Linked DNA regions of Homo sapiens. The protein of the gene in region 1 interacts with the protein of each later gene in a pairwise test. Each region holds a gene or a part of one and is shown on either strand. Other genes may lie near its edges. The genes, in order: EXOC1, CCHCR1, SRGAP2, SH3BP5, NUP54, EXOC2 and TRIO.

Region 1 (4,161 bases):
CAAACAGGGTGAAATAATTGTAGGGGATAGTTTAGGTATAGGGAAATGAGCACTGTCTCCAGGCTAGGTTGGAAAAGAAGTAAACTTGGAGAGGCCAGATTAAGAGAACAGAAAGAAGGGCAATGTCAGAAGACTAGAGGCTGAGATGAAGTGGAAGTGGGAAGATGTGAATTTTATGAGAAAAGCAATTTTTGGAATTGGAGCAGAGATAGAAGTTTTACAGATTGAGTAAAATATTGGAAAGACTTGTTTTACAAAATAGTCATTGTGCTATAAAAATACGTTGTAAATCATTTATTTAAAAATCATGATTTCTTCATTTTCCCATAGAAAGAAATAGTGTTTTAGAAGTTAGTGTCCTAGGCAAGCTCACATGTATGAAATACTACACATTTGCATTGAAAAATTGTAATACATATCCACACAAATATGTATATGAAAAATAAAATAGAGATTTAAAATTATTTTAAGTTGATGTTTGAAAAGATGCTGAGTTAGATAAGAAAAAGGAGATAAGTGGAAACCTATTTTTATAACAGTTTTATTGAGATTATGTATCATAAAATTTACCCTTTTCAATTGTATAATTGAGTGATTTTTGGCATATTCACAAGGTTGTATAACCATCATTACTATCTAGTTGAAAGACATTGTCATCACCCCAAAAAAGAAACTCCATACCCATTAACAGTCAATCCTCGTTTCCACCTTCCCTTCCAGCTCCCGAAAACCACTTATATTTCTGTATCTATGGATTTTCCTACTCTGGATATTTCATATAAATGGAATCATACAATACGTGGTCTTTTGTGGCTGACTCCTTTCACTTAGCATAATCTTTTCAAGATTCATCAATATTTTAGCATGTTTCATTACTTCATTTCCTTTTTTTCTTTTTTTTTTTTTTTTTTTTTTTTTTTGGAGACAGAGTCTGGCTCTGTCTCCCAGGCTGTAGTGCAGTGGCGCAGTCTCGGCTCACTGCAAGCTCCGCCTCCCGAGTTCATGCCATTCTCCTGCCTCAGCCTCTCCCAGTAGCTGGGACTACAGGCACCCACCACCATGCCCGGCTAATTTTTTTGTATTTTTAGTAGAGACGGGGTTTCACCGTGGTCTCGATCTCCTGACCTCTTGATCCGCCCGCCTCGGCCTCCCAAAGAGCTGGGATTACAAGCGTGAGCCACCGCCCGTGCCCGGCCCTTTGTTTTTTTTGCAGCCGAATAATAATCCATTGTATGGATATACCACATTTTGCTTATGTATCATTTGATGGACATTTCTGTTATTTCCATTTTTTGGCTATTGCAAATAGTGCTACCATGAACATTCATGTACAAATTTTTGTGTGGACATATGTTTTCAGTTCTCCTGGAGTGGAATTGTTGGATTATAAGGTAGCCCATGTTTCACTTTATGAGGAGTCACCAAGCTGTTTTCCAAAGTGGCTGCACCATTTTACAATCCCACCAGCAATGTATGAGAGTTCTGTTTCCTCTCATCTTCACCAACACTTGTTACACCAACACTTGTTATTTTCTATCGTTTTTATTTTAACCACCCTCATGGGTGTAAAGTGGTTGATACCTCATTGTGGTTTTGATTTGCATTTCCCTAGTGGCCAGTGATGTTAAGCATGTTTTCATATGCTTATTGGCCATTTGTATATCTTTGGAAAAATGTCTGTTCAGGTCTTTTATTCAGTTTTTAATGGGGTTATTTGTCTTCTTATTGTTGTAAGGGTTCTTTATGTAGAAAACTATATTAAAAGTTTGAGCAGTGGGTTGAAGATTTTTTTCTTAAATCTTGTGTGTGTGTGTATACTTGGTGAGCATTTCCAAACATTTTAGAGTTTGATAACACTGGTTCTCTAATTTTATTTCCAAACTTACAGCTTTGTATTTTTGTGATATAGGTGTATTCATATATTAAATCATTTTTCCTAGGCTTGTTAACCAAAAATTATTTTCAAATCATAAATTCAGAAGTATAAGATGGAATGATGTTGAGGGTGAGCTTAATATCTATACTCCACATTTTTCAGCTGAGAAAAGATGACAGCAATCAAGCATGCATTACAAAGAGACATTTTTACACCAAATGATGAACGCCTGCTGAGCATTGTGAATGTCTGCAAAGCAGGAAAAAAGAAAAAGAACTGTTTTTTATGTGCCACAGGTGGGTATTTAGTAAGAAAGAGTACTTGTTTTGTATCCTTTTATTATTTAGAAGATATTTCCTCTTTGTTTTGAATATCCTCATTGTCTCTGTAATTGGAAAAATTGTTGGGTCAACACATTCCTAGTTAACACTTGGCTTTGACAGGCTGTTAATTGTTGTCAATCTGGTGGCAGTGAAATAGTATCTCATTGTGGTTTTAAATTATATTTCCCTATAATGATGAGATTGAGCATCTTCTCATGAATTTCTTAGTCATTTCATTCTGTTGTGTATGAAATTTACCTGTTTAAGCCTTTTACTCATTTTTCTGTTGTGTTGCTTGTCCTTTTACTGATTTGTACAAGTTCTTTCTATAATCTGGTTATCAACCTTTTGTTGGTTGTATGCATCCCAGTTAGTGGCTTGTCTTTTCACTTTTTATGATGCCTGTTAATGAAATTTATAATTTAAACTAAATGAAATTAATTAATCCTTTATGGCTTTCCCTTTTGGTGTCTTAAAAGATCCTTCCCTGTATCTTTTGTGCAGTCATAAAAATATTTTCCTAAATTCAAAAGTTTTATAATTTTGCCTTTTACAGTTTAGTCTTAGTTCACCTGTGTTGACATCTGTCATGGTGTGTGTGAGCATTTCTGGTTGTCATCTTATATGTTATTTTTATTTTGTTTTTGTTCTTTATTCCACCTAAATTTTAGAAACAACTTGTCGAGTTTCAGACTTTGTTGGGATTTTGATTGGAATTGTTTTGAACCTATAGTTCAATTTGGAGAGAACTTGCATTTTTATTGTATTGAATCTTTGTGTCCATGAACATGGTACAGTTCTCTATTTATCTAGGTGTTTTTTAACTTTATAAGTTTCATCATTTTCTCTAAAGGTTTGTCATGTATATTCTTGGATTTACTCCTGAGTATTGGTTTATTCTTAGATTTTATTTGATAGTCGTGAAAGCGCTTATTAACATTAATACATTTTAAAATCATATATTGTTAGAATTCTACAATGAATTGTTGGTGTTTTATATGGATGTCTATCAATCTTGCCAAACTTTCTTATTAATTCTAATTATATGTAGACTTTTTGAAAGTAGTGATATTTTTCTTCCTTCCTTTATAGTTTTTATATCTTTTATTTTTGTTGGTTTAGTTTCCTAGTTAGGACTATCAATACAGTCTCCATCTCAAGGAGAATGACTTCATTTTCAAGCATGGTATTTGGTATAGGGTTTTTATAGCTATACTTTACAGTGTTAAGTAAGTTCCCTTCTATTCCTGGTTTCTTACACTTTTTTAAAAAATCATGAATGGGAGTTGAATTTTATCAACTGCTTTTTCATATCATTGATATCATAAAATTTTCTTCCTTGTTAGTGTAGTATATAATTGTACTTGGTTTTTGAAATGATAAATTGACTTTTTAGAATGACCTCACTCAATCGTAATGTATTTGTATTAGGCCATTCTTGCATTGCTATAAAGAAATTCTTAGGCCAGGAGCAGTGGCTCATGCCTGTAATTCCAGCACTTAGGGAAGCTGAGGTGGGCAGATCGCTGGAGCCCAGGAGTTTAATTAAGACCAGCCTGGGCAACATAGTAAGAACTTTATATATAAATGTATTGTTGCTCTTTGAAATGGTATTTTGCTCTTTCAAGCCTCACAGACTTTACTTATGTCAATCATTCTTTAGATTTTTACCTCATACTTTTCTTTAAAACTGGTCTGAATTTATTATTAATATATCATTCCTTTATTTTTCAAGGAATCTCCTCTGATCTTCTAGTCTGACTTAGATGCTTCTATTAGGATTCTGTGCTTTCCTCGGTCATAGCACTTGTTGCAAAGTATTACACCTCTTTTAGTATCAGCTACTAGGCACCTGAAAGCTATACTTGCAATGAGTGAATGAAGAATGAGTGAAAGGGGTAATATTTCTAATAAAAGTGTGCGTTTTACTCAACAGTGACAACTGAACGCCCTGTGCAGGTT
Region 2 (4,161 bases), on another chromosome or scaffold:
AGGTTGCAGTGAGCTGAGATCGTGCCATTGCACTCCAGCCTGGGTGACAGTGCGAGACTCTGTCTCAAAAAAAAAAAAAAAAAAAAAAAGAACTACCTGCCTTGGGTACCTCAGTGTCTAAGGCTGAGGGGAAGTCATCACCAGCACAAAGAAGCTTTGCTGTTTTCTTAGAGGTTTTTCTGAAGGTCATACAACAATTGTAGGTAATGAAACAACTAGGAAGTTGGTAGGAGAGACAAAGGCTGGCAATTGATTTAGAAGGAAACTAACTGGCTTACATTTTAGATGGAATAGTAAGCAAGTTAAGTATATAATAAGCAAGTAAGTATATAGCTTTAAATAAATAGACTAGGCCAGGTGCAGTGGCTCACACCTATAATTCCAGCACTTTGGGAGGCTGAGGTGGGTGGATCACCTGAGGTCAGGAGTTCAAGACCAGCCTGGCCAACATGGTGAAACCCCGTCCCTACTAAAAATGCAAAAATTAGCCGGGTGTAGTGGAGGACACTGGTGGAGGATGCCTGTAATCCAGCTACTCGGGAGGCTGAGGCAGGAGAATCACTTGAACCAGGGAGGTGAGGTTGCAGTGAGCCAAGATTGCGCCATTGCACTCCAGCCTGGGTGACAGAGCGAGACTTTGTCTCAAAATAAATAAATAAATAGACTAAATTTTTCTCCAGTGAAACGGATTGCCCGTAAAATTTTAGAAAAAAAAAGGAAGATGAAGTGTCTACACTCTCCATCCTTGAACAATACTGCAAGTAAAGATCCTCCCGGGTGCTCTATTTAGCTCAAGCCATTACTAGACTGAACTGCAGGAGGAAGCAAGGCCTCACCTCCAGCCAAACATGCAACGGGAAATTCATAACAAGCAATCAGGTATGAATGCAGAAGGGGCTTCCCCAGGAAAAGAAACGAACACAGGAACATTGATAGAGCTAAATCTGCCCAGCCCTGTAGCCTCCAGTGGCCACTTTCCAGCCCCTCTTGCCTGAGGATCCTCAGCAACAAGGTGCCCAGGAACCTGAGGTGGCAGAAACACTACTCCACCCACCCCTCCATCCCTGATACCTGCTGACAGCATTGACCACAAGCCTCAGCTGCTCCTCGGCTGAGGCTGTCTGCTGCTGCCACCGACGCCTGGCCTCCTGAGCACGGCTCAGCTCCAACTGCAGGCCCTGGGGAGGATGCAGCAAAGGACAGGGTCCCTCCCTAAGTCCTGGCTGCAGCCCCGGAACAGGGGCTCCCTTGCCCTCCCCGAGTCTCTAGTAGGCTGACACCAACCTTGGCACCCATACGCTCCACCTCCACCTCTGCGGCTTTGTCCTGCAGGGATCGCTGCAGGATGGCCTGCTCCTGGCTCTGGGATGTCACTTTTTCCTGGAGTGAGGCCACCTGGGGGAGGAGAGAGAGCTAGGCAGGGCCCTCTAGAGCTAAAAGATGAGGGGGGCACTGGAAGCAAAGTGGCAGGTGCAGAGATCTCTGTAAGAATGCCATGCAGGGGCTGGGGGGAGGGGGGGCGGGCGACGGGGGTGGGTTGCAGCACGGTGGCTCACACCTGTAATCCCAGCACTTTGGGAGGCCGAGGCAGATGGATCACTTGAGGTCAGGGGTTCAAGATCAGCCTGACCAACATGGTGAAAGCCTGTCTCTACTAAAAATACAAAAATTAGCTGAGCGTGATGGCATGTGCCTGTAATCCCAGCTACTCGGGAGGCTGAGGCAGGAGAATCACTTGAACCTGGGAGGCGGAGGTTGCAGTGAGCTGAGATCAGGCCACTGCACTCCAGCCTGGTGACAAGAACAAGACTCCTTCTCAAAAAAAAAAAAAAAAAAAAAAGAAAAGAAAAAGAATGAATGCCACGCAGGGAGACAGAAGCTTAGGTTCTGAGGATGGAATCTGAGCCCAGTGTTCCATGTTCCACATTCCATGTGCCCACTCAAAGATGGGAATAGCCCTTGACCCACCCCACAAGACCCACCAACTGACCATGCCACTCTCCTCAGATGCTGTCACCTCCTCAGAGAGGCTGTCTCTGAGCATCCTACCTGAGGCTGACTCACCCCACAGTCTCTCCGTCACATTATCTTTTGAATTTTTCTTACTACTTTCTTTTTTTTTGAGAAAAGATCTCGCTTTGTCACCCAGGCTAGAGTGCAGTGATGGGATCACAGTTCACTGTGGCCTCGCCTCGACCTCCCAGCCTCAGGTGATCCTCCCACCTCATCCTCCAGAGTAGCTGGGACTACAGGAATGAGCCACTATGACCGGCTAATTTTTTGTATTTTTAGTAGAGACGGGATTTCACATGTTGCCCAGGCTGGTCTCGAACTCCTGACCTCCAGTGATCCACCTGCCTCGGTCTCCCAAACTGTTGGCATTACTTGACTGGGCACGGTGGCTCACACCTGTAATCCCATCACTTTGGGAGGCTGAGGCAGGTGAATCACCTGAGGTCAGGAGTTCAAGACCAAAGTGATCGCATTATAGGTGTGAGCCACTGCACCTGGCTTCAATCTTTCTATCGCACATATAATTACCCAACATTATCTGTTTACTTGCGTGTTCTGTGTCTCTGTTCTAGAATGCAAGCTCCACATTTTAGTTTTGTTCAGGGCTGTGTGCCCAGCATGTGGCAACCACTCAATAAACACTGGTTGAATGGATGCCACCTTCATGGAAGGAGCAAGGTGCTGGGAGGGAATACCGGGAGAAAAGAGAGTGCAGTGACCTGTCCCTTCAGCTGCTTAACAGAGTCACTGTGTTCCAGCTCCTGGGCCTTTAGCTGCACCATGAGGGCAAACACCTTCTCCCGCCAGCGGTTCAGCAGGGACTGGCACTTCCTGGTAAACTCAGGCTCCAGGGAATCTGAAGGTTGAACCTGAGGGAGAAGGAGTGGGAGAAAAGTGTGGGCTCCTGGGGGAGGAGAGGAAGGAGGTGGCATCTTTGTTTCTCCTCTGTCCTGCCTGGGCAACATGAGCTACAGCAAGAGGAGTTCACAGGAAGGAGATCTAAGCAGGTTCTGGGGCACATTGACCCCTCCTGCCCACAGGGAGGGAGGCAGGGGACAGTAGATGCAGGATGCGGCTGAGGGTGAGGGGTCTGGGGGTTGGGCTGTACCTTCCTGGTCAGCTCCTCCTCCTGCAGGGCGAGGATGTGTGTGAGGCTCTGCACCCGCACCTGCAGCAGCTCCGCGGTGGCATGCAGGCTGTCCCGGTCCTCCTGCAAGTGCTGCGGGCAGAGGAAAGCAGCCCCTCTGTAGGGCCTCCATGCCGCCTTAGGTACCACCTTCTCTCCCGGAGGCTGTGCTCTACACGCTCCTCCAAGGGCCACGCTTGCCTCCCAACCTGATCCCTAAGTCTGCACACAGATACATTCCTGCACCCTCACCTGCATGGTTTCCAGAAGCTTCTGTCGCTCCAGTTCCCATGTCTGGCTGTGGACCTCAGAAGGCACTTGTTCCCCAACATATTTTCTTAGATTCTCAACCAGGGTCACCTGAGCCTCCAAGTCTTCCTGGGTCTTGCTAGGGTTGGGGTGGGAATGGGACAGCCATCAGTGGGGCGCCCTGCAGATCCACCACATCACTAATTGCTGGGCTCCCGTCGGCGTCCGCCCACCTACCTCAGCTGCTTCCGAAGCAGCTCGGCCTCCCTCTGAGCCTCGGCCAGCTCCTTGGCTTCCCCTGCTCTTCTGGTTTCCAGACTACTCAGAGACTTCTCCAAGCCCTCAGCCTTGCTGGTCAAACTGGAAAGAGCCTCCTCGTGAGCCTGTGTCAAAGAGGACAGCTGCGGAAAGAAGAGGGGGCTCAGCAGAGGCTCGACCCCACATGGAGGCCTTCCTTGTTCCCTTCACTCCCACTTTCTGTGACCTTAGAGAATGACCCAACCAATCAGCCAACTGTGCACAGCAAATGGAGAGCTGGCAACTCACTCTCCGCAGCTGCCCCACAACCCATCAGGAGTTCTTGTCCGATCTCCCCCAAAACATATCTTCACCTCTCTGTCTCCGTCTCCACTGCCACCAACCCTCATCTTTTGCCTGGGCAACAGCGACCATCTCCTAACTAGTCTTTACAAACCCTCAGTGGCTTCTCACAGCATTCACAACAAAACCCAGGTGTCTCTCCACACCTGCAGGCCAGGGGACCCGGCCTCTGC
Region 3 (4,161 bases), on another chromosome or scaffold:
ATAGGGAAGAGGAAAAGCTTCCAAAAGCTCCTTTTACCGGCCTGGCATTCTGGGGATCTGTCTGTTCTGCTTTATCCAGATCAAACACCCTCTCACAGCAACTGCAATGCCAGTTATCATTTACTGAGCACTTAGTATATTCCTGGCTTTATGCCAAGTACCACACAACACATTTTCTCATTTCATCCTTAGGACAATTCCACAATCTAGACAACAACCCTATGAAGACTGTAAGCCTTCAAAACAATTCAGGTAAGAGTCTGGGAAGGAATAAAATCCATATCAAGTATAACTGGAATTGCCACAGGAGGGAAGTAGTATAAAAGGTGAAGGATGATTTTCCATCAAAGCAACCATCTAGGAGTCCAATCCTTTCTCTTAACAGGGAGGCCAGGAAGCCTAGAACTCAAGCTTGTTTCCAATCCTACTAAACATACTACTTCCAGCCACCTAGTGCCTGCTCTACTCTGTGGGAACTTTCTGTTTCCACACAGGGAGTTCACGAGTGCTGAAAGTGTGATGCCATAAGATTTCTTTGAGATGGAGAATTAGAGAGTAGAAGTTGGGTGTGTGTGTGCATGTGTGTGTGTGTGTGTGTGTGTGTGCATGTGTGTGTGTAACACAGGAGTGCAAAGGTACAATATTATTATTAATATCTACCACTTAATAAACATTGTGTACCATGGGCTTTACGTACATTACCTCATTTAATTCTTACAATAACTCTGTGAAAGACACTGTTATTATTTCTATTTCTAAAGATAAGGAAATAAGGCTCAGAGAGATTAACTATCATACCCAAGGTCATACAATGAGTAAATGGTGGAATCAGGATTCAAACCCAGGTCTGTCAGACTCCAAAGACCACATTCTTAGCCATTAAGCAACACCGACTCTCCTCTGGATAGGACTGGAGCTGAACTGGTTGGGAGGAAAGGTTAAATATGGTCAAGATATTCCTGAAAAGAGAAACTGGTTCCATGTATGAACCTGAGTTAGAGAAGTGTCTCAACCTGGGGCTATTTTGGCCCCCAGGGGAAATGTGGCAGTGTCTGGAAATATTTTTGATTGTCACAACTTGGGGATTGCTACTGGCATCTAGTAGTTAGAGGTCAGGGATGCTGCTGAACATCCCATGCACAGGACAGCCCCCACAACAACTAATTATCTGGCCCAAATGTCAATGGTGCTGACGCTGAGAAAATCTAGCTTAGAAAGACTTTGTGGGTATACTAATCTAGCCCCTACGATCAGCTAGAGGCAGATGAAAGAATAAAGAATACTGGGACACTGACAAAATCAAAGTACATTAGAGTCTAAATTATGTCTCATTTTGAATGCAGAATGTTTTAAATCAGTTTCACCTCATTCTGAACCTAACACTACTTCCCGTAAATTTTACCAGGATAATACTCTTCATATTTTCTATACAGAAGAAAAAATACTTAACAACTAATGGCGTTTAAAAGCCTTTCTAAGTAATTCAAACAGACCCCCAGCTTTCCAGGTTAACTAAGAAGTGGAAAAGAGGCATCTGTTATCTCAGCTGAAGAAGTGTAGATAGGAGGCTCCTCTTTTTTTTCTCTTTTTTCACCTGAATCTGACCATGGGATTCAAAAGCTTAGTGAGAAGTTACAAAAGTGAGTGCTTTTTTTCTTTTTTAAAGTGATTTCCTATTTCATGAAGGTGCATGATAAAGAGAAAACGTTATGAATAAACATGAGATAAAAAAGGGGTCAAAGAATAGCGCTACCAAGTCAACAAATGAAGTAACAAAAATCAACAATTTACAATGTTACTTTCCCCTAAAAAACTTAAAGAACTTTCTTGTTAAAAGAGAGTAAAACGCTACTTTGCCTAAGAAACTATACATTCTTCACGCTAAGCTCTACTTCTTTTGTGTTTTCTTCTCACAGTGGAGAAATATGTCATATACACAATGGTAGTTTTACAAAGTGGTTGCCCAAATGACTGAATGACACTGAATCTCTCTTCTGGGTAAATACTGGAGAAGCTTTATTAGTGCCTTCCAGCTCAAGAGAAAACTGAGGTACCTAGAAGCTGAAGCTTAAATAAGTGATGCCAAAACAATTGAAAAAATAGGAAAGTCAAGACAGGACTTAGAAATGTATATAGATACAGATATACATGTTAAATATATATTTATAAATATATATTTATAGTCAAGATAGGACTTAGAGAAAGCCAAGATAGGACTTAGATATATATATCTATGTACATATACATATGTAAATGTATGTATATCTATATATCTATGTCTTAGACATATAGCTACACATATATGTATATATAGATATGTATACATAAAGATATACATATACATACTTCTATCTATATATAGATAGGCAAATGCAAACTATGGGGAAAAACTGAAAAGTCTAAATTCTCAGTTCTGCAAAGAACATTCCACTTTACTTTGAAAAACTAAACACTGAAGTCACATATTTAGCTCTGCTCCCTCTGACAGCCACACTAAAATAATAGGAAAAAAAAGGTTCTAAAATGATTATCATTTAGGTATAAATTGAGAAAAACAAAAAGAATGGAAGCTGAAGCCGAAAAGCAGGTAGGCAAACAGTAACTCATCTACTTGAGTCCTAAACCAAAACTAGAGTGAGCCAGGAAGCAGCCAGATTTATATCACAGAAGCCCGAAGAGAAATAAGTAGCAGTGGGATGAAGGTAGAGCTAAACACAAAATAAGCTATTGAAAGTCTGAGAACAGGCCGGGCATGGCGGCTCATGCCTGTAATCCCAGCACTTTGGGAGGCCCAGGCGGGCGGATCACGAGGTCAGGAGATTGAGACCATCCTGGCTAACACGATGAAACCCCGCCTCTACTAAAAATACAAAAATAAATTAACTGGGCGTGGTGGCGGGTGCCTGTAGTCCCAGCTACTCGGGAGGCTGAGGCAGGAGAATGGCATGAACCTGGGAGGTGGAGCTTGCAGTGAGCCGAGATCACGCCACTGCACTCCAGCCTGGGCAACAGAGCAAGACTCCATCTCAAAAAAAAAAAAAAAAAAAAAAAAAAAGGAAGTCTGAGAACAGTGAGGCCCCAAGATCCCCCTCCCATTGTAGTGGAAGACTAGATGAGAGGTTTATTCTGTTAGAGAGGGTCCATGGACTAGGGGATACAAGGTTCAGCTGAGGATAGGGGTATACTGAACTTCAACAGGAGGATTAGCTGAAGTCTATGTTAAATTTTGAGATGGTCTAGGCCTCTTCACAACTCAGCTCCCAGACATGAGTGGGAGATCAAAAGTGTGATCTCTCGGCAATCTGACCATCCAAGATAAGAGACCTAGAAATACTAAAGTTGGGGCTTCCACAAGGACACAGCCCAGTTAGAACACCCTACTGTGAAGGCCACAGCTGACATAGAATCTTTTAGTGCCTCACTTTAAAATGTGAATAGGCAGCTAAGAATGACCAGGCATTTAAAGGAAATGTCTAATATGAAAGACCAAGACCAAAACTAGCAATTTAGAAGAAATATTATACAACAAGAAGAAAAGTTTGAAAACAATATATCCATAATAGCCCTGGAGAGATAAATGAGAAATAAAACGATACTGCATCATGAAACAAAAGTTGGATGCAACAAAAAAGGGAACATGTAGAGAACAAGAAAAGAGTTCTTGGCAATAAAGATTCAATTCAAGTATCTCTTCAAGGAGCCTGACTTCATCCCTGTCCTCTGTGCAGACATGTAAATGAGTTCTTGTCACTTCATTTTTCACTTGATGCTTTACTTTTCTGTCTCTCCCTATTAAAACTAAACGCCTTGAGGTCAGAAACATCTCTTATTTGTTCTTGTCTCCCTAGTGCCTAGTGCCAGAGTCAAATAGGCAAGCAGAGTTGAGAGACTATTAAGTGCCATTGTTTCAAGGGAACAGGTGCTAAATACCAGTCTGAAGTAGCTCTGCCAGCACACAGCCGCTGCTCCAAGCCAAGGGGATGTAAATTTAGGGGGAGTACAGAAGCATAAGGCCTCTGGAATAACAACAGCCCCAAAGTGTCCCAAAGCCTCTTTTTTCTCAATTCTAGAGCTTCCTTGACTCTTCATACTCAGCCAATCCACACTGGCTTCAGTGCCTCCATGTACACTCCTTCCTGTGGGGGTTTGCTGGGTTTTTCC
Region 4 (4,161 bases), on another chromosome or scaffold:
CCAGGCATGGTGGCACATGCCTGTAGTCCCAGCTACTTGAAAGGCTGAGGCAGGAGAATCACCTGAACCCAGGAGATGAAGGTTGCAGTAAGCCGAGATCACGCCACTGCACTCCATCCTGGGCAGCACAGCAAGACTCCATCTCAAAATATATATGTATATATAGATATCTATATCTAGATATATATTTGAGCAAATTAGTGGTCAGACTAAGAATAAACCAACTTCCCAACAGTGGTTTTCTTTTCCTATTTATCTATTTTGAAAAAGCCTTGTGAGGAAAGATTAAATAGCTAAATTGGCTGTGGCAATGACTGAGAAAGAAAATGGAAAAACAAAAACCAGAAAATTTTGAACTATTTTCTGATTCAACAGCTGTCCACTTTCTTCTCAGGTTCCTCGATCTAAGTAGCCACCTAGACCTCCTCCCGTTCACACCTTGGGGCAGGGGCCTGATGGGCAGGCAAATGGCCAAATAGCAGCAGTGGGAACCTAAGAGATGGGGAACCTAATGGGGAGACCACCAAAACCAAGAACTAGGCATCGTGCCAGGCACGATGGCAGTCAAGCCAGCAAAGCAGCCATGACTTCCATTGTTTGGTCCTTTCCCAAATATTCTGAACTAGTTGGCTGTGCACAGAAGAACTCAGGATCCAGAAAGGGCAAACTTTACATTTAAGCAATTAAATTAAAACCCAGTCATTCACATCAGATTTTGAGGTACACAAACATTTGTGAGCAGAAGACAAGTCAAAGTTCTGGTGGGAAATTCTGGTGGGAACACTTTGTTAAGTCTGTTGAAAAAAATGAGTTACAAAACCAATACTCAAGGGCCCTCAATGGCCAAAAAACAAAAGCAGCTCACAGGCCCAGTCCCAGAGACATGGGCAATGTTAATTCTCTCCTTGCTTACCTACAGAAAAGCATCAGAACAAGGCCTGCCTTGAAGAAAGAGGAGGGAAACAAACCGCAGTTCAGGCCACATAAGCAGCTTGCGATTTCTTTCCCTGTCTTCTGCCTACCACTCAGTGTTATAAAATAAACCGGAGAGACAGTAGAGGTTAGGCTAAAGGGTTATTCTCTAATTCTGTATTCTCTGGGGAGCATCCGAGAGGAGCCCAGAGGGCTCATGGTCACTAGTCAGCTCTCTCAGACCCCGTAGAACAATTTTAGGGAGGTACCACCATGTCTTTAGTTCACAGTTAAAAAAGAAGGCCACAGAGGAAGGTTGCCAATGTTCTACCATCTCCTCCAGTCAACAGCCACAATCAGCCCTAGGATAGTTTACTTATTACTTACGATAAGGATTTTTAAAGGTACCATGAAAAATTATGAAAGACTTTTATATGGGCATTAAAAATTACAGGGTGTCCTGTCTAGGGCACCCTTCCAGGCTATCTCTGACTTTGTCTTGAAGCTGTTTTACAACCCTGTAAGTTGTAGAAAACTGACAGTAATACAAATGGTTTTTTTTTTTTTCCAGAGAAATGAAGATGAACTGTGTCACAGATGCAGTGGATTACTGACTGCCCTTGTAATAGTCCATTTTGCATCTGTTGGTAATTCATTGAGGCACTCTTGGTTTTCTATGAGTTTGTATTTTTTGAATTCAAGAATTGTAACATCACTGTTAGATCCCTCCTTATTTAATGAGAGAAATAAAATATTTGACACGAGAAAATTTTATATTTGTATCCCAATTATGCTTTTACCTTCTTAAAAATATCTTTTAACAAAGGCTTCAGTGCTTCAGATAATTTTTAAAAACAGAAAAACAACAAAATCAGAGAAGAAAAATAGGAGAGAACTGAGCTAAGCTGGCACGAGGAGACATGCTTGCTCACATGACTTCTCAACCAAGACCAAAGGGCTAAGAGAATCCTTTCCCTTTGCTTCCAAAACCAGATATTTCACAAGGAAACAAAATGCACTAAAAATATCTCATGCTTGATACTTGGGGAAACAGCAGTAAATCTTAAGCTTTAAGGATTTACTGGTATAACCTTTATGAAAACTCAAACCTTCAGGTTCATCAAAGACAACATGTTGGGGGTGATTGTTTTATTACAAAAAGATCCAATTAAAGGTTTACCTTTAAGGAGCTGTCAGAATGCATTTTCAACAGACTTGTAGAACCTGTAATTTGAGGGTCCTGTACAGAAAGAGTCCCCTGTAAGAAGCAGGATTCTCACCATCTGCACACAGGCCCTCATTCTATCTTGGCCTCTAGGCTGCAAGCAGAAGCACAGGCTTTCTACAATAAAACACTTGGAAAGCTCCGAGCCCATGGCAATACTGGCAGTGAAAACTGAAGAAGTGGCCAGCACATCACTGTCCCCTGCTTCGCCCCACCAGGCCACGTCTACCACATCCTGTCCCTATCTCCCCACTTCTCATATATATACAAAACCTCCAGGGCAGCCAGGTGCGATGGGGCTCATGCCTGTAATCCCAGCACTTTGGGAGGCCAAGGCGGGCAGATCACTTGAGGTCAGGAGTTCAAGACCAACCTGGCCAACATGGTGAAACCACGTCTCTACTAAAAATACAAAAATTAGCTGGGTGTGGTGGTTGGTGCCTGTAGTCCCAGCTCCTCAGGAGGCTGAGGCAGGAGAAAAGCTTGAACCTGGGAGGTGGAGGTTGCAATGAGCCAAGATCGCGCCGCTGCACTCCAGCCTGAGCTACAGGGCGAGACTCCGTCACACACACACACACACACACACACACACACACACACACACACACACAACCCTCCAGCTCCTGGAAGAGACCTCCACACAACTCAGCTTCCTGCCTTGAGGAAGAAGGTCACTAAGCATGTCGCCTTGGTTATGTCTCCTAGGTAATCAAGGAGCTCCTCTATCTACAGCCTAGCATCAGGCATGAGCTGTGTGCAGTGATGTGGGTCAGGTGTGGTGGGATAAGTAAGGAGGAGAGCGGCTCAGGGGTAGGTGTGGCAAACTGCACCCCATACTCCGGAGCAGCATACTCCGGAGATGCTGAAGATCCAGGGACCACAGAGATACTGCTCAGCCCCGGACCCTGCTCATATCAGCCCACAGAAAATAGCAAACACCCGGCACCTTCCCGCATGGGCACCACTGGGCACTGATTGGGTGTTTCAATCTGGCTTGGCCAGCCTCTTCGCGGGGTCCCACACCAGCAGAATGGCCCAACCGGCTTAGTAGACATCCACCAGGCACAGCTCCTCAGCCTCCTGTTACAGCTTTCTCGACTCTCCAATCTCCAGGGCCTTTGCACCCTCAGTTACACTCCCAACATCTCTTCCAACATCACAGAGGGGCGGTCAGGAGCCTCTTTGCCCAGGGAGGCAATCTCACTGTCTGCTGAGAACCTCCATTCTGACTGTTTCAGACTGTTTCCTGATTCTTACTGCGTCCTTGGGCAATGAGACCTAAGAAGGCGCTTCTTCCCACTGTGTGGAAGGGAGGCGGTTCACACCCACCAACGTCAGGGAGGCTGTCGTGAGCAGCTCCTCACCTGCCATCCCAGGCTCATATCCACTGTGAACCAGGAGAAGGGCTGGCCCTGCGTCGTGTCCTCTCCAGCAGCCACCTGGGGCTAGTTCAGAAACAGTTCGTGCCTCTCATTTCCAAGTCACATTTCCCTCTTCCTCTGTCTGAGCTCTTTCAGCAGACATCAGAAAAGCCAATTTCTCCCTCCCAGGATGCCAGCCCTCCTCTCTCAGAGGATGAAAAGCTATCACCTTCCCATAAAGGCTACTTCAGTGCCAAAACAGCTGAGGCTGAAGGGGTCCTATGCTGCCCAAGCTCCCCAGCTGGAGAGCAGCAGGGACCCCAGGCCCTGTGCCCCAAGGAAGGCTGCTCAACTACAAGGTTGGCAGCTCTGCCACAAGCTACTTGTATTTTCCAGAGTCCTCATCAACCCCAGCACTAAGCAGAAAACTGATCCTTTGTCCCTGTCTGTGCCACTGCATGTGGCCTAACAGAGCACACCAGGGCTGCTGCCACCTCCTAGTATATCGGCTTCAGCCATGGCTCCAAGTGTGGCTGCCTGATGTCACCACAGGAAGTGTGAGGGGCCGCATAGATAATCTTGGGCACGTTACGTGGGAACCCCAGTGTCCCGCTGTGCCTGGAGGGATCGTGTAGTCCAAGCCACTGCCATTTCTTCAAGACA
Region 5 (4,161 bases), about 20 Mb from region 1:
CAAATAGAATTTTCCGCTCCTAGTTAGTTCTCACTATGCTATGCTGCCTTACCATAATCTTTTTTTTTCTTATTTTTTTCTTTTTGTTTTGGCTGAAGCTTTAGCTGGACAATAATCAATATTTTTTAAAGGCCAGGAAAATGAAAATAAACTTGTCTCATATGTAAGAATTATAATTAATAGCTCCCATGTTTGCTTTCCTAGTAGCAAATATTAGTTCTTAAATGAAACAAGATGAAGACATACTTACTTTTCAGAATCAGGGTTATCTACCTTGGCCTGTTCCCAGATAATAGGATCAACACCTACCACAAATAAAAAATATTTTTTCTAAAACAATTTTCTATTTTTATAATATGTGTATGACAAAGGCTTTCCTAAAGCAAGACCCTATACCTAGAAGCTATAATGAAAAGTGACTGTCAAATATAATCATGGTAAAAATACAAATTTTTGCAGAATAAATAAAGTTCAAAAAAAGCACAGATTGAAAGGAACTATCTATAACCTATAGGATAATAGATTAACCTCCAGAATATAGAAAGAGTTCCTATACATCAAAAAGGAAGACAAAAAAATCTAGAAAATGGGCAAAGGACACAAATAGGTAACTCACAAAAAATATAAATGTAGCTAATAAACATATTAAAAATAAGTATTAATTTTTAAATTAATTATTTTGCCATCAGTGGCCAGAAAAAATAACATTCCTGTTATGAATATAAACGGTAGAACTTTCCCTGGAGGGCAATTTGGCAATATCTAACATACATAATATTGACTCAAAAATTTCATTACCAGAGATCTATTCTAAAGAAATATATACCAATGTGTTCTAAGACATGTTTACAAGGATATTGTTAATTACTGTACAGTTTATAATAGTAAAAAGAAAACAACTTAGAGGTGTTAAGTAAAGGTGTATCCATGGAATACTATGCAATGTTTAAATACAGTAAGATTTATCTTCATGTATTGACATGAAAAGTGCTAAGGAATACTGTAAAAAGGCAAGCTGAAGGTGTATATGGAGAATCCTTTTTTAAAAGATCTACATGTAAATATGCTTACATTTCAAATCACAGATAAAGGATTAAACATAGTACCATAAATTGACAGTAGTTACTTCCGGGGAAAGGAACTAAAGGTAATCTATCACATAGTCAATCTAGTTATGCCATCCAGAATATTTTACAGTTAGAATACATTCAGGTTTTACTTGAATATTCAGTTAAAATGAGATAAGCTAGAAAAAAATAAGCCAAAATTTTACTAGTAAATTACCTTTGGGTAGATGGATTATGGACTATTTTTCTTCAGTTCACTATTTCTCAAAATTTCTATTTTAACATATACATATTAGCTATATAATAAAAAACTAAATGAATACAAATATTCAAAACTATTTCCCAAATAAGTAGATATATGACAAGATGATACTAATTTTATTAGCATTAATAACCAACCAACACCTCTGAAATACGGGGAGTGTTTAGTTCTAAATCTTTCTTTTTTTTTGAACTCTGTGATTCTAGAAACATACCAGCAGGAGGATTCTGTAAAAGCTGTTTGATCTGTGCAGGAGAAAGTTCTGTTCTAGTCATAGAAAGGGTTACACCAAGTTGCTGCAATTGTGTTTTTATATTGGCTTGTTCAAAATGGGCATATAGCGTTGTAGCTGGAACTCTTCTTGAAGTACCATTTGGCGAACGCTCAACAACATAAATAACAACTTCTGTCCTGAAGGAAGAATAACCAATTTATAAAATATGGAGCACAAAACTCATAGCGACAAACCTCAGCATATCATAGCATGTGATTTCAGAAGGGTTTAAGTTGAATTCAGAAATGGTTGTTTTAGGAGGCAATTAAAATGTTTCCTTTTTTTTTTTTTTTGAGCAAGGTTTGCTCTGTTGCCCAGGCTGGAGTGCAGTGGTATCATCACTGCAGCCTCAATGTCCCAGGCTTAAGCAATTCTCCCACCTCAGCCTCCAAGTAACTGAGAGTACAGCTGCACACCCGCTACGTTTAGCTTACATGTATGTGTGTCTATACATAAATATATATGATATATATATATATATATTTTTAAATTTTTTTGAGAGACGGACACTCGCTATGTTGCCTAGGCTAGTCTCAAACTCCTGGTCTCAAGCAATCCTCCCACCTTGACCTCCCAAAGTTCTGGGATTACAGGTATGATGAGCTGCTGTGCCCAACTGTTTTCTTCTTAAATCTTGGAAAATAAGAAAGTTTTACTTCATGTAATGTTCATTTACAAATCAACCTAAATGATAAAGTTAAAAAGAACCAGGTAAATAAGATAGTATTTGTTTTTTTTTTTGAGACGGAGTCTCTCTCTGTCCCTCAGGCTGGAGTTCAGTGGCTCAATCTTGGCTCACTGCAAGCTCCGCCTCCTGGGTTCATGCCACTCTCCTGCCTCAGCCTCCCTCGTAGCTGGGACTACAGGCACCTGCCACCACGCCCGGCTGATTTTTTTTGTATTTTTAGTAGAGACAGGGTTTCACCGTGTCAGCCAGGATGGCCTCGATCTCCTGACCTCATGATCCGCCCGTCTCGGCCTCCCAAAGTGCTGGGATTACAGGCGTGAGCCACCGTGCCCGGCCAATAAGATAATATTTATAAAAGGGTTTGCTTAGTTGCAAAATCCTATGTAAATGTTATTTACTATAGGAAATTCTGTTGAAATTTATGGGCTGCTTCTCTGCAATTACAACCACAAGTAAAATCTGTTCAATTATTGCATCTCATTAATAATCATTCCTCCAAATATCCTAAAATAAATGTCTTGCCACTAACACTGAGAATTATACTTAGGTCAAGGGAAGTAAAGCAATAATATTTATTCATGAATGAACATGAACAGTAATGAGTTAATAACATTTTCCAATAACATCTTTATGGCCCTCAATTTGCACGCATCTATGACAAATGGTCCCTTCCTGGCCTGAATGAAAATCTAGAAAATTATTAGCATCTAGTAAGTTAAAAAATCCAAAATTTTAAAAAAACTTTTAAATAAATGTTTTTATCAATACTGAATAATCACTAGCTGAGAAAAGGCATTCTGCTCTGAGAGTTAATTTGTGCTTTAGCAACAAAAACATTATTGATCACTCCCTTAGGACCAGAAATAAATACACAGAAATAAACAGTATATTTATGTATACTTACTGATCATCTGGCAATGTTTTAGTGCCCTCTACATTTACAGTAAGGGTCTGGTTTCCTCCCAAAACTTTATGCAATGATTCTACCAACTGTTGTTGTTGGCTTCGAATCTCTGTTTCTTTTTTGTTGAAAACTAAAACCACTAGCCCATCTTCATCTTTATTACTGGGCATGCAACTATAACCTACTGCCTGTGGAATGACAAAATAAACAATATAAAAAATATGTACAGATCTTAAATCAGGTGTTTAATATTAATAGCTTAATATCTGCTAAAATGGGAAAAACAACTTAATGTCTGGTAATTAAGGGAATAATGATTCTTCCCACCATTTTGTGCCCTAGGAGGTCACAAAATTATAAAGAAAAACTATTTTACCCAGGAATAACATTAACCTATAGAGTAAGATTAACATTTCCTCTTTGAGAGAGTAACTAAACAGCTTTCTCCCCTAAAAAATTTTGATATTCATTATTGTTGGTTGTTTCTGAACCATCTGCATGTCATTATAAAAGTGACTGCAAAAATCACCAACTAATTATAATTTATTTCACTATACAGATTCTCAACTTATGATTTTTCCATTTTATAGGGTGTGAAAGCAATACGCATTCATATATACATACATGTAAACCATACATGGAATTCTGATCTTTTAGTTTTTATTATAAAATTATTATTATTATAAGATGGACTTGATGTTAGATTATTCTGCCCAATTGTACACTAATGTAAGTGTTCTGAGCATGTTTAAAGTAGGCTAGGCTAGGCTATGATGCTTGGTAGGTTAGGTGTATTAAATGCATTTCTGAATTACAATATTTTCAATTATGATGGGTTTATTGGGATGTAACCCATAATAAGTTGAGGAGTATCTGTATATCTGATTCATGGAATCTTAAACTAAGTTTTAAATATATAAAGAAGTAATTTACAAATAAATACTTTTAAATCACAGTAATGACAGT
Region 6 (4,161 bases), on another chromosome or scaffold:
CCTGTTAGTATGTTGTACAGACAAACGATGGCTGGGAAAAGGTGTGGCTCAACAGTGAACATGGCCCACTAAAAATGGCTGCTGGTGAGCTGTGACCGACGGGAATGAAAGGCTAACTTCATTGGTTAGGAAAAAATGGAAAACGTATTTTCAGTTGCAAAGCTGACAGAATGACAGCAAGCCATGTTATCAGATGCTGGAAATGAGTGAGTAAGCATATTACAGTGTCCTCAAACATTTCATTTGCATACGACTTGGCTTCTCAGGCACATCAACACTATAACCCAGTATTTCCTAGGTAATGTTGCCCACGTAGTAAACAATTTTGCACAGACAAACAGTAGTTCTGCTTCACTTCACCTACTGATATTTCAATGGTAGGAAATCCTGACTTTCATTCAAAACAGCTAAAAATTATCAAATTTCCACTACAAAATTTTGCAGAGAAACCACAAGGCTTCCTCTTATACTGATATTTACAGCACTTGAGCTGTCCTTCAGAGTCTGCTATGAACAGACTAAGACTCAGTTCTTATCCTCTTTTGCTTTAAGAAGTATGTCATACTCTGCTGTATTATAAGACTAAGATTTGTCAGTAGTAAATGAAAAAATTATATTAAACCCCTTTCATTTACATTGTGTTACAAAGTGGCCTTGACATAAACTTTATCACATCACAAATTCATGAGCATGTGCTCTGATCAGTCATCTTTACAGAGGACAGAATTGACTAGTAAGACAACCTTTATTTTTAATAGAGCACTCAACTAAAGAACACTGCCACTTACTTGCTTTCGGGTGTCAGGTAAACAGCCACAGTGTCCCTCAAAGCACAGATTTCAAGTCTCGCCTGAAAATGAGAAAAAGACAAAGTGACAACAGGAAAATTTATATTATCAAATATAAACAAGTACTAAGGTTAAGGGTCTCCAGCCTGCTCATCGTAGGATGGGGTTGGCGTAATACCACCATGGTGACCGCCAGTCATGAGTAGAGTTTCTAAAACAGTCCGAAGAAATTTGCTACCACAAAATGTTCGTTGACTGAAAATTAACTTGTAGTCAAGGATGACTGTGTGAGGGCAGGGAACTAGATATCTCACTATGAAAAGTACAAACTGTGTCATGATTTTCCAGCCATCTGTATTTACTCTCTAACCACTAATTTTTCTTTTAGTCTTGCAAGAGGAAAGACACTTTGAAACACTGCCCTGAAAGGGCCCGTGTCCCACAGAGGTAAGGATGTGGCTTGGCATGCTTCCTGACACCTATGCCCTTGCAGGCACACTGCCTTAATCTCAAAACCTAAACTCTGCTCTATGGATTCAATGCAATCTCTATTAAAATCACAGCTGCTTTTTTTTTCCTTAATGGAAACTGGCAAGCTGATTGTAAAATTCATAAGGAAATGCAAGGCACTCAGAACAGCCAAAACAATCTTAGAGTAACACATTTAGAGGCCTCAGACTTTCTGACTTCAGCCATACTCCAAAGCTAAAATATATTTAAATATTGTATACCCTCATATTTATGATCAACTGCTATTCAACAAGGGTGCCAAGACCACTCAGTGGGGGAAGAACAGTCTGTTCAACAAATGGTGCTAGGGCAACTGGATATCCACATGCAGAAGAATGAAGTTGAATCCTTTCCTTAACACAAAAATTAACACGGATCACAGATCTAAATGTAAGAAACTTATGAAACTATCAGAAGAAACCCAGTGTAAATCTTTGTGACCTTAGGCTAGGAAACCCTTCTTAGAAATCATGCCGAAAGTATAAACAACAAAACAGATAAAGTGGACTTCACCAAAATTAAAAATCCAGTGCTACAAAGACACCATCCAGAATGTGAAAGGACGACCCACAGAATGAGGTATCACTTCACACCCACTAGGATGGCTATAATCAATAAGAGACAATAACAAATAATGGTGAGGATGTAGAGACATTGGAACCCTCAAAAATTGCTGGTAGGAATGTCTGCCACTTTGGAGAACCGTCTGGCAGTTCCTCAGAAGATTAAGTATAGAGTAACCACATGACCTAGCAATTCCGCTCCTTGGTATGCACGCACGAGACATGAAAACACATGTCCACACAAGAACTTGTATAGGAGTGTTCACAGAAGCATTCTGCATATTAATCAAAGGTGGGAAAACCACAAATGCCCATCAGCTGATGAATGGATAAATAAAATGTGGCATATTTAAAGTGGAATATTATATGTAAAAAGAAGCGAGGCACTGGCATATGTCACAACATGGATGAACCCTGAAACATTACGCTACATGAAAGAAGCCAGTCACAAAGGGTCATATTTTCATGTTTCCATTTATACGAAATTTTCAGAGTAGACAAATCATAGAGATAGAAAGCCAATTGGTAGTTGTCTGTAGGGGGAAAGGGTGGTTTGGGAGGCAAATGATTAGACTTAATGGGTCAGGGGTTTCTTTTGGGATGAAATGTTCTAAAATTGATGATGGTGATGACTGGACAGCTCTTTGAATATACCAAAAATCATTGAATTGCATATTCTTTTTCTATTGTAGACAGATCGTATGCTATGTGAAATATTTCATAAAAGTTTTAAGAAAAAAGTTAAGCTTTCACTTCTACGCAAGCATGAATAAGTGTGATCTGACATACAAGTCAGTTTCCTGGGAGCTCCAGCAGACCCACTGACAATGATAACTTGATGTTCTGAAGTAGGTGCCCACAGTGAGTGGGACACACAGGAGAACATTTAAAAGAAATATCCCTTATTCTCAAGGAGTGGACAAAACATAAAACAATGACAAAAGACACAGCCAGCTCTTCACAGTTTATTAGAAATTCTGTAAGCCATCTAGATCAAAGCAGATATATATGACACAGGATATTCAGTGACCTTTTTCTGTTTGGAAGGCAATTGTTTGGTTTCATTTTTTCAGTCCCTTAGAAGCCTGAAAAACAGTATATAACTAGAAAGTTACAAATGCTAGAAAGTATGACAATTTCTGTCTCTATTTTGTTTATATTCTAGTATAGGTAAAAACAGACCTACCAGGAAAAAAGGTAGAACTTTCAGCTGACCATTTTAGGAGAAAGATTAAATTACTACAAAACCAATCTTCTGGTAGAAATTTTATTCAATCAAGGTGATAGAGTGTTTTAATTAACCTGTAAGTTATGCCAATTATAAAAACTGTGGTTAGCTATATAATACCTACAAAACTGTAATCCAGAAAACATCATGCTAAAAGATCTGCCAAAATCACCAAACTGTCACTCCCCTTTTCACCAAGCTCTCAGGACAGTTCTGGAGTTTGGCACCTAATTGCCTATCAAAGGTTAACCTGCTATCCCTCTTAGAGCTATGGCCTCAAGGAAGGAAGCTCTCAAAGTCATTCTCAGTGGGAGAGTGAAGCGGGAGTTTAGACTCACGACCTTTTTCAAAATACACATGTCTGTCCAGGCCCGAGGAGGTCTCAAAAACTGGAGGCTGGAACAGTTTGATGGCCAGTAGTTTCTGGACATGTGTACGTGAAAAAATTTTCCAGCTAATTCTGAGATCACTTTCCAACCTCTCCCTGCTGGTTTTGAGAGTGGTTTAGCCATCAGATAAATGGATTACGGAGGTAATGTGTAGAGAGGGCGGATGCCTGTTAAAATTCTAAGACTGCTAAGGCCCACAGTAGCGACTGCGACTGCCTGTTAATTCATCTGTAGTATTACACAGTTTATACTACTCATCTCCTGTGATGGAACTATTATAATAACCATGACCTTTCAACTTAAACGATAATATCAAAGATCTGATACATCAATTTTCAGAGAAAACTGGTGGCAAATGGAAACACAGCAGAAGCTTTTGCAACAGATTCTCCCCTAACCAAATTAACAAGTGCTCTCTGCTCTTTTTCTTTCCCAAATATGTATTTTGAAAAAATTTCAAATGTATGGAGGCTCTGAAAGAACTTTACAGTGAATGCCTGTTTACTCACAGGCTCTCCCAGTAACACAGCCTCACATGACCACATGGCTTCCATCCGTCACTCAGTCCTGTAGTTCTGATCCACTTCAGTGTGCATATCATTAACTACAGTGGACTATTTGCACCCGTTTTTTTTTTTTTATAGTTAGAATGTACATACTACACAACAGACAAATCTCGAAGT
Region 7 (3,500 bases), on another chromosome or scaffold:
GCCCGGCTGCCGGCAGTGCCAGGTGCAGCAGGCATCCTGCGGTATCTGCTGAAGGAAGGCAAGTAGCTCATGCTTCTCGGAGCTGTAGTTTCCTCACCTGTAGAATGGGCCACGGGAAGACTCACCGAGATCATGTAACCACAGGCTGGGCAGGAGGTGACACACTGAGTGCTCAGTGTTGGACTCAGAAGACTTCCTCCTCTGAAACTACTGTTCATACTAAAAAAACACTTACCCAGCACTGCCAAGTGCCAGGGGCTCAATGCCTTCTAACAACTCATTTAATCCTTATGACTCTCTGTGAAGTGGGCCTTAGTGTACCCATTTGATACACGAGGAAACTCAGGACAGAGAAAGCATGAAACGTTCCCAAGGTCCCACAGCTCCAGAGTGGAGAAGCCAGGATTGGACTGAGGTGGTCTGGCCCCCACCTCTCTCAACACCGGCCTATGCTGCTCTCTTTGCAAAACAGAAATCTGTAGGAAGATCAGCTGCCTGTCTAGCAATGGGGAGTCGCCGGTGAGAACAGGAGTAATCTGTCATGAAAACGGATCCTATTAACAGGATGGTGAGGCCAAACCATTTTGTTTCCCAGAAATGACAGCTGAAAGCACTGAAATGTCAGTCCAGAAACGAAGGCCTTTAGGAGATTTGTGACAAGCACTCAAGCCACAGTTTTGTTAAAACTCCCCAGGGAAGGTGAGCAGTGGCCATTGGTCACCAGCGTCTGGAGCCAGAAAGGAGACCTCCCGGGTCCTGAGGCTCCCAGGCCAGGCCTCGGCTTGGATGTCGGCTCGGCTCTTCCACACACATCGCCCCATCTCGGCCCCACGACAACCCTCCAAAGCCAGTGTGACTTTTAAGGACACCAGGGTGAGAAATGAGCCGATGAGAGGGAGGGCGGGGACTGAGGCCAGGCGAGGCCAGTGGACCTCCTCTCCATACACACTGCTCAGCCTCACTGCGCCCCACCGTCTGCCCTTCTGCCATGAGATGTGTTTTCTATTCTTGAAAGACGGGCTGGAAGCACGTCCCCATGTGCTGGGGGAGGTTCTAGCTGTGCAGCCATGGGTGGGAGGCCTTCCTGAGACACCCACTGTCACCCATGGCACATGGGCGGCCCGAGGAAGCTGGTAAGGCTGCATGTGGGGCCATGTGGGACGCTGTGGCAGCCTTGCCCTAGGAAGGGTATGGGGAGGCATTTATAGTTTCTTTAAGAAAAAAATGACAATAACTACAACATCAGGTACAGGGCCTGGAGGGAGTTCCTGCCGGCGAGGGGCCCCGAGCTTGAGTCTGCCCCTACATGACCCCATGGGGGCGCCCTGCTAATCCTATCCTTCCCACTGAAGAAGCTATGCAAACTTCCCAAATGGTGACAAAAGGTTTTACCCTTCCCCATGGAAAAGCAGCTGTAAATGCAAGTAAATGTATAAAATGACTCCCCCTAAAAAGGAGGAATCGACATTTTTCAAAGCTAAATGCACAGATGTTTGGGGTGGATGAATCCATGGGGGTTGTCCCTGCCTTGCAGGAGGTTGGGTGGCATCCCTGGCCTCCGGCCGCTCCCTGCCGGACTCACCCCCAGCCTGAGCTCTCCTGACATTTCCACGAGAACCCACCCCTAGATGAGAACCGCTCCTGTGGGACACAGGTTTCAAACTCTTTTCTTGACGTGACTAAATTATTTTCTGATCTTACACAGGAGCCCAGTAAGTACAACGGGGACCAGAGGGGCAGCTCTGGTTGGTGTGCCCGCGCCCCCTCTTCGGAGGACATTCTGCGGGGAGGTGCGTCTTACCCTCCCATCCAACTGGCCTTCACTTGGCAGGAGGCCTGAGGGGCACCCCGCTGATCCGGGGTGAGCTGGCCCTGCACAGGCTTGGGGTATCAGGTCAGCCTCCAACCACTAATGGGGGCTTGGGTTCAGCACCAGAGACAGCCTGGCCTCATGGGACCTTCAGAAAAGGGGTGGGGGGGGTGCATCTCCGGGTTGGCTGAGCATATCAGGTGTTCCATCCCAGCAGTGACTGCCCTTCATCAGGCAACCGCCCTGTGGAAGACCACACTGCTTTCTGCCATTACTGGAAGGCTTGAAAACTGCGGGCTCTGACAGTGAAGATGTTTTTTAGTTCTGTAAATTCTACAAACCCAATTTCTATCCTTCTTAGAGAACAAACAGGAACAACAAAACCCCCTGAGGTGGAGGCAGAGGGCTGGGCAGAGGGAAGGCCAGGTGTGTACGCACATTTCTAAGACCAGGATGTAGCTGGTGGGGGTCTCAAAGGTGTCGAGGAGGCCGACAAGCAGGGGGTGCTGGAGGCTCTGCAGGATGCCAAGCTCATGGGTGACCTGGTCGCGCTTCATCAACTTCTTGTTCACAAACTTAGTGGCCACTGCTCGCTTGGTTCCTTTCTGATCACATTTCTTAACGACAGAGAATCTGCCCCTGTAAAATATGTCAGGGGGACCATTTGCAGAGGCTGCTGAGGTCTGGCACCGAGAAAGACTCTGTTATCCTAAATGGACTGGCTGTGTGGTGGCCCAGCCCTGTCCAGAGGCCCTGCTCTCCCGGCCACTCCACGGAGGGGCTGTGGTGCCATGGCTGTCCCCCAAATCTGCCCTTGTCCCCGCAGCCACGCGGTTCTGCTGGTCCTTCCTCCCAGGCAGCCTTGGTCTCCTCACGTCGGTGGCTGCTTTCCCAGCACTGCGTGTGGTGGAAGTGACAGAGGAAGACCTCTGAGCCTTGGCCTTGCCGGGCGACTCCCTTCTGCTTCCCACGACGAGCAGAAGCTGGGATGGCTGCTCACGCCTCCCGTCAGCCACCTTTCCCTGCACGTTTGAAAGGTGCGTCTGCTGTGGTCACTGCCTCAGCCTCGCCCCTGTGGGGGTGTGTGGGGCAGGCACGAGGACCCTGGAGCTGCCCCTGATGACCCACTCCTGGGGACTGGCCACAACTCAACGCGATCTGGACGAGGCCTTGGACCTCAGGTGGGGGCCTGGGCTGGGGGCCTGAGGTGGGTGAGTGCATTCTGCACATGTGAGGACCAGAGATGCGCCTGTGGCGGGCAGACTGTGTGGTTAAAGGCCACGGTTTTGCTACTTCTGTCACTCGGAGGCGGGGGCTATTCGTCCCCTTGAATCAGGGCTGCCTGGGGCTGGCTCTGGCCCACAGGATGTGGAGGACGTTGGTCGTTCTGAGGCTGGGCCTTCAGAGGCCTTGACGCTCCTGCTCCTGCTGTTCTGGGATGCCACTGCCCTCACGTGGGGGAGCCCAGGGTGAAAGTCGATGTGGAAAGAGGCCAGTGTCCCAGACAACGCCTCTGACACGCATGGGGCATGGTGCACCAGCTGACCAGGCCAGGAGAGGCCAACAGAATAATGGTCCCATCTGCCCACTGCACTGGAAGAAGGCACATGTCACCACTGTCCTAAGACAGCATGTGCTGGTGTGACTTTTTATGCAGCCACAGACAGCTGACAGAGACAGCAACAGGAGC

What was found.
Region 2: the proteins of EXOC1 (region 1) and CCHCR1 interact in binary tests that used the Homo sapiens proteins (3 or more experiments, as listed by UniProt).
Region 3: the proteins of EXOC1 (region 1) and SRGAP2 interact in a two-hybrid assay, tested with the Homo sapiens proteins (2 studies listed by BioGRID and IntAct).
Region 4: the proteins of EXOC1 (region 1) and SH3BP5 interact in a two-hybrid assay, tested with the Homo sapiens proteins (2 studies listed by BioGRID and IntAct).
Region 5: the proteins of EXOC1 (region 1) and NUP54 interact in binary tests that used the Homo sapiens proteins (3 or more experiments, as listed by UniProt).
Region 6: the proteins of EXOC1 (region 1) and EXOC2 interact in binary tests that used the Homo sapiens proteins (3 or more experiments, as listed by UniProt).
Region 7: the proteins of EXOC1 (region 1) and TRIO interact in a two-hybrid assay, tested with the Homo sapiens proteins (2 studies listed by BioGRID and IntAct).

The regions. Positions count from the first base shown.
Region 1 is NC_000004.12:55,856,276-55,860,436, forward strand, and holds part of EXOC1 (exocyst complex component 1), read left to right. Parts: intron 1-2,038; 5' UTR 2,039-2,048; coding exon 2,049-2,172; intron 2,173-4,135; coding exon 4,136-4,161.
Region 2 is NC_000006.12:31,147,334-31,151,494, forward strand, and holds part of CCHCR1 (coiled-coil alpha-helical rod protein 1), read right to left. Parts: intron 3,790-4,161; coding exon 3,626-3,789; intron 3,528-3,625; coding exon 3,392-3,527; intron 3,233-3,391; coding exon 3,122-3,232; intron 2,883-3,121; coding exon 2,733-2,882; intron 1,396-2,732; coding exon 1,285-1,395; intron 1,179-1,284; coding exon 1,072-1,178; intron 1-1,071. UniProt on the Homo sapiens protein: May be a regulator of keratinocyte proliferation or differentiation.
Region 3 is NC_000001.11:206,388,060-206,392,220, reverse strand, and holds part of SRGAP2 (SLIT-ROBO Rho GTPase-activating protein 2), read right to left. Parts: intron 1-4,161. UniProt on the Homo sapiens protein: Postsynaptic RAC1 GTPase activating protein (GAP) that plays a key role in neuronal morphogenesis and migration mainly during development of the cerebral cortex. Regulates excitatory and inhibitory synapse maturation and density in cortical pyramidal neurons.
Region 4 is NC_000003.12:15,262,813-15,266,973, forward strand, and holds part of SH3BP5 (SH3 domain-binding protein 5), read right to left. Parts: intron 1,687-4,161; exon of another isoform or gene 1,484-1,686; intron 1-1,483. UniProt on the Homo sapiens protein: Functions as a guanine nucleotide exchange factor (GEF) with specificity for RAB11A and RAB25. Inhibits the auto- and transphosphorylation activity of BTK. Plays a negative regulatory role in BTK-related cytoplasmic signaling in B-cells.
Region 5 is NC_000004.12:76,130,980-76,135,140, forward strand, and holds part of NUP54 (nucleoporin p54), read right to left. Parts: intron 3,384-4,161; coding exon 3,196-3,383; intron 1,741-3,195; coding exon 1,544-1,740; intron 306-1,543; coding exon 251-305; intron 1-250. UniProt on the Homo sapiens protein: Component of the nuclear pore complex, a complex required for the trafficking across the nuclear membrane.
Region 6 is NC_000006.12:490,337-494,497, forward strand, and holds part of EXOC2 (exocyst complex component 2), read right to left. Parts: intron 851-4,161; coding exon 789-850; intron 1-788. UniProt on the Homo sapiens protein: Component of the exocyst complex involved in the docking of exocytic vesicles with fusion sites on the plasma membrane.
Region 7 is NC_000005.10:14,503,342-14,506,841, reverse strand, and holds part of TRIO (triple functional domain protein), read right to left. Parts: intron 2,450-3,500; coding exon 2,249-2,449; intron 1-2,248. UniProt on the Homo sapiens protein: Guanine nucleotide exchange factor (GEF) for RHOA and RAC1 GTPases. Involved in coordinating actin remodeling, which is necessary for cell migration and growth. Plays a key role in the regulation of neurite outgrowth and lamellipodia formation.